Regions from separate parts of the Homo sapiens genome. Here region 1 is linked to region 2. A link means that fine-mapping ties the variant in region 2 to the expression of a gene that starts in the linked region. Tissue or cell type: whole blood. Region 2 holds a variant in brackets; the other region holds the start of a gene. All regions are shown on one strand. Distances are from middle to middle.

Region 1 (5,069 bases), 78 kb after region 2:
AGTAGCCTCTTTCATCCCATACTCAAAATACCCAGTTTAGCAAGCAACTGAGATTTAAGTCTCTCTGGCCCTAAGAGGTTTTTCCTCTTTGCTCCCTCCAATCTTGAGATTGGGTTTTGCTTTAGAGTGCAAGTATCATAATTCCGTATGATAGATGGGGCCTGGACACCCATCTCAACAGGGTCACTTGGTAATTAACAATAGCCATATAAATGCGGATACAGGTTACTACCCTCACCCTTTACCTTCCTCAGGTAACAGTCGTAGATACCAGCTTTTTTTTTTTTTTTTTTAAATTGGCTTTGGCCAGTAGCTAAAGTGCAAGACTGAATTAATGAGAAGATATATTAAATGTAGTCATAGGGGACTGAGGAGCAAGGGTGGCCTTGAAGAGGCCAAAGGAATGTCCATTTGCTGAGTTTCCCTTCCTTATGTCTCCAGTCTGGTGCCAGGTAGTGGAGTAAAAAAGGAGACAGTTTATTTTTTTATTCTATGTGCACACTTACAGTATACATATATATTTATATCACAATTTACGAAACCAAAAAGTTGAGTTTCCAATGGAACCCTTGTTTTTTAATAATCGACTTTTTAAATGTGATCAGGACTATAATATTGTACAGTTATTATAGGGCTTTTGGGGAAGGGGAGGATAGCGAGAAGATGCTCTGGGGGTTTTGTTTTTGCTTTTCCTTCAGGGTTTTATTTTTGACTGTTTTGTTTTCTTGTTGGCCATTTCTGTATTGCTGGCATCTGTGCTAAGCTTTACAGTGGCAAAAATAATGACATGTAGCAAAGATTTTCAAACAAAATATTTTTTCCTTTTGTAAAATTTCTTGTGTTGTGTGATCTTGATTGCGGCTTTATCATTCCTTTCCAGTTCATAAACAACAGGCACCCACAACCAGAGGAATCTATAGTTTAAGCTCCAGACATACAAACATAAGGCACATTGTGTCTTTAATTTCAGGAATCAGAAATCATAGGGTTCTGATCACATTGCACGCCTCCCCCCTCACTTGTCCTCCTGATCCTGACACATTCTGAGTAACATCAGCAGGAATGCTCTGACCATGAGGTGGGGGTTTTGGGGTGGGCGTTGCCTGGGTTCTTGGGAGAGAGGGGAAGAGTCGGGACTTGAAAACCACTAGGGCACATCTGGATGCCTTCCCCCAGTATGTCCTTTTCTGGATTAAAATGAGTGAAATTTAAACTGTTCAAGTCTGGACCTGGTTTCCCTCTAGGAGACTATGTTGGTTCATTAGCAACTTTTTTTTTTTTTTTTTTTTTTGTGTGTGTGTGTGTGTGTGTGTGTGAGAGATGGAGTCTCGCTCTGTTACCCAGGCTGGAGTGCAGTGGCACGATCTTGGCTCACTGCAACCTCTGCCCCTTGGGTTCAAGCAATTCTCCTGCCTCAGCTTCCCAAGTAGCTGGCACTACAGGTGTGTGCCACCATGCCCAGCTAATTTTTGTGTTTTTTTTTTTTAGTAGAGATGGGGTTTCACTATATGTTGGCCAGGCTAGTCTCGAACTCCTGACCTTAGGTGATCCACATGCTTTGGCCTCCCAAAGGCCTGGGATTACAGGCGTGAACCACTGCGCCTAGCCTGTTAGCAGCTCTTAAAATCCAGAGGCATAAGCCTGTATTTTTGAGGGTTTATGCATGGAATCCAGCTAGAAACTGAGTCTATTACAGATCCCATTTATTATCCTTTCTATTCCAAGAAGCCTTTTTTTCTCCTTCCCCACATCTGTTTATGGAAGAAAATGAAGTTTGGGGTGTGGTTTGAGGAATCAGCTAGATTCTTATGATCTGTCACATGCTTGGATGTTGGGGAAGCATTTGGAGAAGCTCATGTGACTTGTCCTAGATTGGGGATTTTAATTGAGACAGATGATGTTTATCGGGCATCCCACCACCTGAGAGTTTTAGCAACAGAGTCACATGTGAGTCCATCAGAACTTACGGCATTGATTCAAGTGCTGTCATAAATAACCAGGACTGCTGTTTTTGGTTACTTTTAAAGACAGTTTCATCTGGACTTTCTGGGCATATCCTCCTTCAGCAAAACCACATTAGGCTGGGAAAACTATTCTGCCTGGAAGTAATGACAACTTGCAACCAACAAGCTTATAAAAATACAAAGAATTCTGGAGCCTATGGCTTCCATTACATTATTCTTTTATAGCCTTTTATGTTCATTACCGCATCCCAGAGGTGAGAGTCAGACACAAATATGAAAATAGGTTTCAATGTTGGAGAGGTAAATCCTAACAGGAAAGGGGTAGGAAAAGATATAATCCCCCAATATTAAAATAAAGATATTGAAGAAGAAGGATGGGAGAGACTAGGGCTGTGTCCTTCCTTTTACTCACCAAAAGAGAAAGTAAGCTCCTATTTGAGTCAATAGATATTGAGGTCTTGTTATTTGCCACCAAAGACAGTCTTGTGAGACTAAATAGCTAGTAATTCCCTACCCTGGCACACATGCTGCATACACACAGAAACACTGCAAATCCACTGCCTCCTTCCCTCCTCCCTACCCTTCCTTCTCTCAGCATTTCTATCCCCGCCTCCTCCTCTTACCCAAATTTTCCAGCCGATCACTGGAGCTGACTTCCGCAATCCCGATGGAATAAATCTAGCACCCCTGATGGTGTGCCCACACTTTGCTGCCGAAACGAAGCCAGACAACAGATTTCCATCAGCAGGTAACGTTTGCAACTTCCTAGATCTTTTAGCTTTTCATTCCTGTCAATTCTCTGAGTATTAGGGATGTAGTGACTTGAGGATCACAATAAACTTTTAGCCTCTGCAGATGAAAACAGAGATGCACTTCTTAGGTCATTCCCTGGCTAAATAAAATCTGCCTGGAAATCTGTAGAATTCCTTGTATGATTTATATATATACATACATGATTGTTAGTAAAAGCAAAGTATATAGGGAATCATTTCCCCATCCTTCAAGAGTGGCCTTTCTGCAGTGTTTTCTACTTTGGCCAACAAGGATCAAAACGGTTAACTCCTTAGTGAGGAGGAGGAGAGTGGTATGGGGAGGTAGTAGCTCAGTGCTTCCTGTTCACTGAGACATCTCAAAGCCCTTAACACTCTAGTTTTTAAATGTCCTACTGGACATTTTGCCAGTTTGCAAAATTACATGTAAATGGACTATAAGCAATTGTGTAAGCCATATGTCATGCTGCAGGCTGCAAATTGTTCTTAAAATGGAGGATTTGTAATTAAGAAAGCCAATGCAAGAAATGAGTGAAGCTAACTAGAGTAAACTTATGAAAAGCTGTGAATTTCATCATCATAGAACATTGCTTTTCAGTCTGAACATTCTTCTAACAAACCTTGGATCTGAGGCTTCTTGTCCTTTGCGGCAGCCACAGTGGGTTTTTGTTGTTAGGGGAAAAATAAAAAACCTTGCCCGCAGCATCTGGTTAAGATTAGGGCAGTTTCCTGCCTAAGGAGGGAAGGGAGAGAAAAAGGAAGAAGAAATGCATAAGGAGAATGAGGAGATATACAATGTCTCAGAAAACAGGAAACATTGTCCTATTTTCCCTTGTCCTCTTCTGACAAGATCTGGGAAAGTACCAGAATTTAGGCACGAAAGAGAAGAACGCCTCGAAGAAATGATCAGGAGGCAAAACTTAGACGGAAATCTCTCCTTTGTGTATTCTGAACCCCACTACCACCTTGCTATTTGTCTGTCTCCAAGCCTGCTAGGGACCCTGGAGGAAACGCACTGAGCCCATTCTGATTGTCCAGTTTCTATCCCCCATTTCTGGTTGTGTACGTGTGTGTGTGTGTGTGTGTGTGTGTGTGTGTGTGTGTGTGTGTGAGAGAGAGAGAGACAGAGAGAGAAACAGAGAGAGTGTGTGTTGCCTAAATCTCCCGAGAGAGAGAGAGAGAGAGAAAGAGAGAAATGGCTAAATCCCCCTAGATCAAAGTCCTTGGAACCAGATGTACCAGCATCCTATCTAAACACAGGCCCCTCCTGACTATCATTGTTTTATCACCCTTTTTCCGTCTACCTTTCTCTTCCTCATAAAGCCTAGTTTTCCTCTGTTTCCCTGCCAAATGGAAGAGTTTTCCCTAACTACATTCTTCTGCAGGATGTGGGGGCTCAAGGTTCTGCTGCTACCTGTGGTGAGCTTTGCTCTGTACCCTGAGGAGATACTGGACACCCACTGGGAGCTATGGAAGAAGACCCACAGGAAGCAATATAACAACAAGGTGCCTGGGGTCCTGGAGGGGGCATGGCAGGAAGGCTGAGACCTGAGCTCTCTCATCTTAGCTTCCAGACTCCCTTCTTCAATCCAAATGCTTTATTCCAAGCAAATCAGTCCCTCTTCCCTAACTCATGTTAACATACGGTTTTCATTCCTATGCTTCAAATCATCCTCTGTCAAACTGTATCCTTCCTTTGCTTTATAAGTGTGTTACATTTCTCTTTTGGGAAGAGTTCTAAGATTAATGCTGTTAATCTATAAGCAATTTTTCTGTCTCTCCAGAGCTTTGTGTTGTATTTGTTTACATATTATCTCTTCTTGCAGGCTCTTAATTCCATGGTTAGTTCCCCAACTAAACTGTAAACTTTTATGATTGTGAGTTTCCTTTATTCTCCTAAAACCCTTCACAATATTACATATGTAACTGTAGACAGTCTATACAAGTACTGACTATGCTTTGTTTAGGTGGATGAAATCTCTCGGCGTTTAATTTGGGAAAAAAACCTGAAGTATATTTCCATCCATAACCTTGAGGCTTCTCTTGGTGTCCATACATATGAACTGGCTATGAACCACCTGGGGGACATGGCAAGTATAGCTTCAGCTCCTGTCCCACCTGCACCATTTGCTTTAGTTCCCTGCTGATGCCTGGCCTCTTTCTTCTTTGTCTTAGACCAGTGAAGAGGTGGTTCAGAAGATGACTGGACTCAAAGTACCCCTGTCTCATTCCCGCAGTAATGACACCCTTTATATCCCAGAATGGGAAGGTAGAGCCCCAGACTCTGTCGACTATCGAAAGAAAGGATATGTTACTCCTGTCAAAAATCAGGTAC
Region 2 (8,169 bases):
CAAAATTCCATCTCAATAAATAAATAAATAAATAAATAAAATCTCACATTGGAAGGAAACTTTAAAGGTCATCTTGTACCACCTTCTAATCATTCCTGTAAAGCCCCTGCTTGAGCTCCTTGTGTGACAGGGGCTGGGCACTGACTGTCTCCTGGCTGTCTATCTATTTCAGAAGGTTCTGGAAGGCAGTAATTTTTTACCTTGAGCCAAATCTGTCTTCTTAGTACAGCTTCACTTTTTACTTAGGACTGTTTAAGGCAACACATATCTTTTCCATACACAAGAGTTTCAGTAATTTAAAAATAGCTATTAAGTACGTTTGATTGGTTTCTCAGAGGATGTGGTCTACCACTCTACCCTTTTTCTACTGAAGATTTTCTAGTGTGTCTATATTCCTTTTAAAATGTGGTGCCCAATACAGAATACAAGATGCATGCAAACTCAAGATTATTCATCTAGATACTATACTTCTGTTGCTTAAGACAGGACCATACTGAACCTTGAAAGTCAGGGCAAGGACTTTGAATTTTGTTCTTTCAGGTATCGGGAAGCAATGGAAGGTTTTGAGCAGATAAACATTTTGGGAGCAGGGGCCATATCTTACTGTGTATCCCATTGATTCTAACTAGAATGTAAGCTCTAGGTGTCTGTCCCATTCATAGCATGGATTCAGTGCCTGGGGAGGGCTGGCATATTTTATGTATTTAATACGTCTACATGAATGAATTAATATGAATCTCTATCGGTGTCTGGCACATAGTGCATACAACAGTTCATACTTGTTGAATTCAGGCAGGTAAATGATCAAAGCCATACTTCAGGAAGATAACTGGCAAGAGTGCGTAAAAAGTATTGGAGCTAACACACACTATAGGGTGAAAACAACAAGAGGAGTTTTAGCAGTCTCAACAAGGGGAAACAAGGGCTAGGATAACACAGTGAGTAACAGAAAGGAAAGAATGGATGTGAGATTGTGAAAGAGAATTTGTGACGACCTGGAAATTAAGTGGACATGTAGTGGGAAGAAGAAGGAAGTGATAAAGAAAACTCCTGGGCTTAAATTTGGAAAGCTGAAAGAAAAATGATGCCATTCATAGAATTATTTATTTTAGGAGTTGCTTTTTTTTTTTTTTTTGAGACAGAGTCTTGCTGTGTCGCCCAGGCTGGAGTGCAGTGGTGCGATCTCGGCTCACTGCAAGCTCTGTCTCCCGGGTTCACGCCATTCTCCTGCCTCAGCCTCCCGAGTAGCTGGGACTACAGGTGCCCGCTGCCACGCCCGGCTAAGTTTTTGTAGAGACGGGGTCTCATCCTGTTAGCCAGGATGGTCTCGATCTCCTGACCTCGTGATCCGCCCGCTTCGGCTTCCCAGAGTGCTGGGATTACAGGCGTGAGCCACTGCACCCAGAGGAGTGGCAGATATTTTAAGGTACTAGGATGAAATCAGTCTGAGGTAGGCTGAATTTAAATGCACTGATACAATATGCTCAGGAGGCTAAAATGTGGGACTGGAATTCAGAAGTAGAGTGAGATCGGCTAGGCACGGTGATTCATTCCTATAATCCCAGCCCTTTGAGAGGCTGAGGCGGGTGGATTGCTTGAGCCCAGGAATTCGAGACCAGTCTGGGCAACATAGCAAGACCCCATCTCTACAAAAAAACAAAAACAAAATCAAATTAGCCTGGCGTGGTGGCACGCACCTATAGTCCCTCCCAGCTACTCAGGAGGCTGATGTGAGAGGATCGATTGAGCCCAGGAGGTCAAGGATGCAGTAAGCCATGATCGCACCACTGCACTCCAGCCTGGGTGACAAAGCAAGCCCCTGTCTAAATAAATAAATAAATAAATAATAAAATACATTCTTATTAGAAAGGAAAATGCTGTTTTGTTTCTAAGTATGCCATGTATATTTTTTACTCATTTTCATATGCAGTGATCCAGATTTTGTATGGCCTAAAATTTATACAACATGGGGGTCTCTCTTTAAGGAAAGAATAAAAGATTTAAAATACAAAATTAGGGCCAGGTGCAGTGGCTCACCCCTGTAATCCCAACACTTTGGGAGGCCGAGGTCGCGGGGGATCACCTTCGGTCAGGAGTTCGAGACCAGCCTGGCCAACATGGTGAAACCCTGTCTCTACTAAAAAGTACAAAAAATTAGCCAGGCATGGTGGTGCACGCCTGTAGTCCCAGCTACTCGGGAGGCTGAGGCAGGAGAATTGCTTGAACCTGGGAGGCAGAGGTTGTATTGAGCCAAGATCGCGCCACTGCACTCCAGCCTAGGCGGCAGAGTGAGACTGTCTCAAAAAAAAAAAAAATAAATTAGGTAAAATGTTTTCAAAATGGGGGGAAAAGTCACAACAAATTTAATTCTTATGCAAAATAGCTTTTCTTGAGAAATACACTTTCAAAAATGGTAGAGCTAAAATCTGTTTTCCAAAGGGAATACCTGTCTTAGAATTTTTTTTAAGTGGCTTTTAAGGTTCTTGTTTTGTTTGAGATGAGTAGCAGCACTTCTTGGGATTATAGTAGGAGAAAGGAGGTGTGGTGTGAAGCTATTGGTTTATGTTAAATTTGGACCTACTAAAGTAAGAATCAGAATAATGGCATTTACAAATCCTTGGCAACATCAATTCCACTTTCAGTTCCAGAAAGATCCATTACCTTTTCCTTTCTCTGTGTTCCTTTTCCAGATCACTTCATTCTTCCCACCTGCAATGACCTGCCATTCTTGAAGAAGACCAAAATACTAAAAAGACCCAGTTTTTCTCTCCTGGCCATAAGTTTAGTGCAAAGAGAGAGATGATGGTGAAGAAACACAATAATGCAGCTTTTTTTTACTATAATCCTTAAAATCAAAGACACTCTCTGGCTAATAGGACTAATCAGAGGTCCCCCCAACTTTCCTCAAAAAGAGACTATGCTCAAGACATCCCTTCTCAGATGAAAGTTTAACTTTTCGTAAAAAGCTCTAACGAAAAAGGTCTTGGGCTGAGACAGACGGGTTGCTTGAGACCAGGAGTTTGAGTTCAGTCTGGGCAACATAGCAAGATCCTGCCTCTAAAAATAATAATAATAATAATAATAATAAAGCTCTTTACTTCCTTCAGTCATTTCCCCACGATTTCCCAAGTTCATAGCAAGGTGCTATTAAACTCAGAAGAATTCTTGGAATTTCTCCCAGTGAAAACTCCACCAGGAAGGCAATGTGGGTAGTTACCTACCTTCTGAGAGCGGATATCCAAGGCTACATTCACTTGTTGCCAGGGCAGTCTCCTCCTACTCAAGTACATCTCTTGGCAGCCTCTGTTTTTATCAACCTCTTCCCACAAAAGGAGAGTGGTTGGTAGCTCTCTCCCTTCCCCACTCCCACGCTGAACTCAGAAGCTTCATGAATAGTTCAATTGAAACAGGATCAAGTTTCAGACACTCCCATACTGAGAAAATGATCCCACTAGATTAAATTGGAGCCTAGATCAGTGGAGGAATATTTCCACAACTCTGCCAGGGCCAGGACAGCCACCATTAAAAGCTCAGGTAAAAATTTCTTTCTTTTCTTTTTTTTTTTTTGAGATGGTGTCTCGCTCTGTTGCCCAGGCTGGAGTGCAGTGGTGCAATCTTGGCTCACTGCAACCTCTGCCTCCCGGGTTCAAGAGATCTTCTGCCTCAGCCTCCAAGTAGCTGGGACTACAGGTGCATGCCACCATGCCCAGCTAATTTTTGTATTTTTAGTAGAGATGGGGTTTCACCATATTGGCCAGGCTGGTCTCAAACTCCTGACCTTGTGTTCCACCCCTCTCAGCCTCCCAAAGTGCTGGGATTACAGGCGTGAGCCACTACGCCCCGCCTCAGGTAAAAACTTCTAAGTAGGATCACATGAGTGGTAGAGGATGGATTGGTAGCCAACTTTTTGGTCTATGCAACAGGTCTCTGAATTACAGCATCTCCCAGGGACTTGCTAGAAATGCAAACT[C/G]TTGGACCCTTATCCTGGTCCTAATGAATAAGAAATTTTGGGGGTGTTGGCCTGTGTGTGTGTGTGTGTGTGTGTGTGTGTGTGTGTGTGTATTTAAGAGATGGGGTCTATGTTGCCCAGGCTGGAGTGCAGTGGCTATTCATAGGTGAATCACAGTGCACTACAGCCTCAAACTCCTGGGCTCAAGTGATCCTCCTGCCTCAGCCTCCCCAGTAGCCGGGACTACAGGCATGCACCACCACTTCCTGTGGCATTTGTGTTTTAACCAGCTTCTCTAGGTGATTGTGATGTATGCTTAAGTTTGGGAACTACTTGTCAACAGGATTAGTGATGCTTTAAAATGTTTTCCCCTCTTTCCTCAGAAGAATTTACTTGACACATTTGATTTAAAAAGTCAGGCCGGGCGCGGTGGCTCACGCTTGTAATCCCAGCACTTTGGGAGGCTGCGGCAGGCGGATCACGAGGTCAGGAAATCGAGACCATCCTGGCTAACACAGTGAGATCCGGTCTCTACTAAAAATACAAAAAATTAGCTGGGCGTGGTAGCGAGCACCTGTAGTCACAGCTACTCGGGAGGCTGAGGCAGGAGAATGGCGTGAACCTGGGAGGCGGAGCTTGCAGTGAGCCGAGATCGCGCCACTGCATTCCCGCCTGGGTGACAGAGCCAGACTCCATCTCACAAAAAAAAAAAAAAAAAAAAAAAAAAGTCATAACCGGGCCAGGCATGGTGGCTCACGCCAGTAAACCCAGCACTTTCGGAGGCTGAGGCAGGTGGATCACTTGAGGTCGGGAGTTAGAGACCAGCCTGGCCAACATTACAAAACCCCGTCTCTACTAAAAATACAAAAATTGGCCAGGTATGTTGGTGTGCGCCTGTGGTCCCAGCTACTTGGGAGGCAGAGGTTGCAGTGAGCCGAGATGGTGCCACTGCACTCCAGCCTGGGCGACGGAGCCAGACTCCATATCAAAAAAAAAAAAAAAAAATCTGCTTTATTCTTTTTAATGGCTGCTGAGTACTCAAGTAGTCCATTTTCTCTGTTGGTGGGCTTTTGTATTGTTTCAAATTTCTTATAGCAACATTGCAATAAATATCCGTGTTTGTGTGTGTATATATACATACACATATATACATACATACATATATATACACATACATATATATACATACATATATATATATATATATATATATTTTTTTTTTTTTTTTTTTTTTTTTTTTTTGAGATAGAGTCTCACTCTGTCACCCAGGCTGGAGTGACAGCCTTGTATATATATTTCTCTGGGCACTTGTGGAAATGTTTTTGTGGAATAAATTCCTCCAAATATTAAAAATATACATGCTAGGTTGTAGGATATGCACATTTGGAATTTTAATAGATATTACCAAATTACACACTAAACGGTTATAGTAATTTACACTCCAATCAAATAGGCATGAAAGTGCCTTTTCTTTTTTTTCATAGCTTCACCAATGTAAGTTACTCAGAGTCTCTGAAATATTTGTTGAGCTAATTGGTTAAAAACAATATCTCAGTTTTTAGGCTGGGAACGGTGGCTAACGCCTGTAATCCTAGCACTTTGGGAGGCCGAGGCGGGTGGATTACCTGAGGTCAGGAGTTCGAGACCAACCTGACCAACATGGTGAAACCCTGTCTCTACTAAAAATACAAAAAATTAGCCGGACATGGTGGTGTGCGCCTGTAATCCCAGCTACTTGGGTTGCTGAGGAAGGAGAATTGCTTGAACCCAGGAGGGTGAGGTTGCGGTGAGCTGAGATCGAGCCACTGCACTCCAGCCTGGGCAACAGAACAAGAAATTGAGACTCCATCTCAAGAAAAACAAAAACAAAAACAAAAACAAAAAAACCCCACAATATCTTTTTTGTTTTGTTTTGTTTTGTTTTTGATTTTTTGACACAGCGTCTTGCTCTGTCGCCCAGCCTGGAGTGCAGTGGTGTGATCTCGGCTCACTGCAACCTCCGCCTCTGGGGTTCAAGTGATTCTCCTGCCTCAGCTTCCTGAGTAACTGGGATTACAGGCGCACGCCACCATGCCCGGCTAATTTTTGTATTTTTAGTAGAGACGAGGTTTCACCATGTTGGTCAGGCTTTTCTCGAACTCCTGACCTCATGATCTGCCCGCCTCGGCCTCCCAAAGTGCTGGGATTACAGGTGTGAGCCACTGCGCCTGGCCCAATATCTCAGTTTTTTAAAGATTGCATTTCTCTAATTACTACAGTATTTGAATCTCTATTGATTTACATATTTTGCAGATACATACAAACCTATCTTCACCTTACCTATCCTTTTCCCTTTTGACTGAGCTATTAACCTTTTACTTATTGATTTGAAAATGTATATCTATCTACAAACATAAGTACACACAGATACATTTTTACACATTTTTTACTTATTAATAACTTTTTTGTGATACATGTGGTTCCCAGTGCCTATCCTCTGACTCCAACTCTCTCACTTTTGAATTTGCTATCAACATCAGCTTCCAGAATTAAACCTCTCTTCTCAGTCCAATAACTTCTGGCTTCATTTGCTTCCCAGACCAGTCTCATCCCCTTTCAGATATTTTTAAACTAGGGTCTTCTGCAATTCTAGAATCTTCCATCTTCAAGATACTGATCAGTTCATCATCTCTCCAATTGTGGGTAAACTGTTCACTTTCTTTCCTCAGGTTTCTGAGTATTGACAGAAATTACAATGCTCCATAGTTTCATGAAAATTTATGCTTTCTAACTTTGTCTAGCTCCCCAGAGCATTTGGTGATCTTTTTTTGTTTCCTTTTTCTACTCCTGTGGCAGATTATTCACAGTCGTTTTGTTCATACCTAGTTGACTTCCCAACCAATTGCTTACAGCTGTGCAGCTACACCCACCCTCATTTCTACCTCTTATTCCCAGCAGAAGTTTCACCTGTTACTTTTCTTTGAGACTCAAAGTCATCACACATGAGTTCCCTTTCCTCCACTTCAAAATGTCTACACATTTTTAGAAAAAGGGTATCTTGGTTTTCTGAGAACACTTTCACATGCTGCCCTAACCCTGTCTCCTTCTCTCCCCTAGAACCAGTCTTGTTTTCTCAGGCATATATATTTCTTGCATTTTTTTATTTTTTTGTTTTTTGAGACAGAGTCTTACTCTGTCACTCAGGCTGGAGTGCAGTGGTGCGATCTGGGCTCACTGCAACTTCCAGCTCCCAGGCTCAAGTGATTCTCATGCCTCAGCTTCCCGAGTAGGCGGGATTACAGGTGTGTAACACCACGCCTAGCTAGTTTTTGTATTTTTAGTAGAGATGAGGTTTTGCCATGTTGGCCAGGCTAGTTTCGAACTCCTGACCACAGGTGATTCACCCACCTTGGCCTCCCAAAGTGCTGGGATTATAGGCATGAGCCACCACACCTGGATGTTTCTTGCATTTTTAGTTTGCTCCTTTCCACAAGCTCAGTCTATAGAAATATTTTACTATTTCCACCCCTAGCCTAACCCCTACCGCAGCTACCATTTGATTATTTTTCTCTTCTTTGTCATGTTTCTTGAAAAAATAATCTGTGCTAACTAACTGTGTCTACTTAGTTTCTACTCACTTCTCACCCACTTGCAATCTGGTTTCCATTCCTTAGATGTGCTCGTAGGCTGGGCGTCGTGGCTCACGCCTGTAATCCCAGCACTTTGGGAGGCCGAGGTGGGTGGATCACCTGAGGTCAGGAGTTTGAGACCAGCCTCTGTGAAACCCCGTCTCTACTAAAAATACAATAATTAGTTGGGCGTGGTGGCGGGTGCCTGTAATCCCAGCTACTCGGGTGGCTGAGGCAGGAGAATCGCTTGAACCAGGGAGGCGGAGGTTGCAGTGAGCCAAGATCATGCCATTGCACTCCAGTCTGGGCAAAAAAAGCAAAACTCCATTTAAAAAAAAAAATTATTTGTTGTTTATCCAGCATTCAGATCAAACTGGCTTAGCTTTATTTTTATTTGCTAAATCTGGCAACCATACCCAGAGACACTTAATAAAACTTTGGAGGCTGGTCTGAGTGCCTTGGTGTTTACAACTAATTGATCCCAATCAGTTACAGATTTCTTTGTTCCTTCACTTGACTGGTCTTAAAAAACAAACAAAAACAAAAAACAATTTAAAAACTACCATTCTAAATAATTAAAAAAACCAGTTTACCATAAGAGTTAACAGAAAA

What was found. PIP is the estimated chance that this variant, and not a neighbour inherited with it, causes the effect.
Region 1: it holds the start of CTSK, and the variant in region 2 is fine-mapped to the expression of CTSK in whole blood (INTERVAL, PIP 0.97).

The regions. Positions count from the first base shown.
Region 1 is chr1:150,805,857-150,810,925 of GRCh38, reverse strand. CTSK (cathepsin K) reads left to right here and starts at 2,666. Exons shown (of 8, transcript NM_000396.4): 1 at 2,666-2,712; 2 at 4,120-4,240; 3 at 4,702-4,824; 4 at 4,910-5,065. The coding sequence starts at 4,121. It overlaps ARNT (aryl hydrocarbon receptor nuclear translocator), which reads left to right. Exons shown (of 22, transcript NM_001668.4): 22 at 1-1,213.
Region 2 is chr1:150,882,366-150,890,534 of GRCh38, reverse strand. It overlaps CTXND2 (cortexin domain containing 2), which reads right to left and starts at 3,399. Exons shown (of 2, transcript NM_001384189.2): 1 at 3,222-3,399. It also overlaps a transcript of LOC107985204 not described here. RefSeq lists cis regulatory regions at 4,440, 6,205 and enhancers at 4,368-4,512, 6,133-6,277. The variant C/G (reference allele first, on the strand shown) is at 3,971.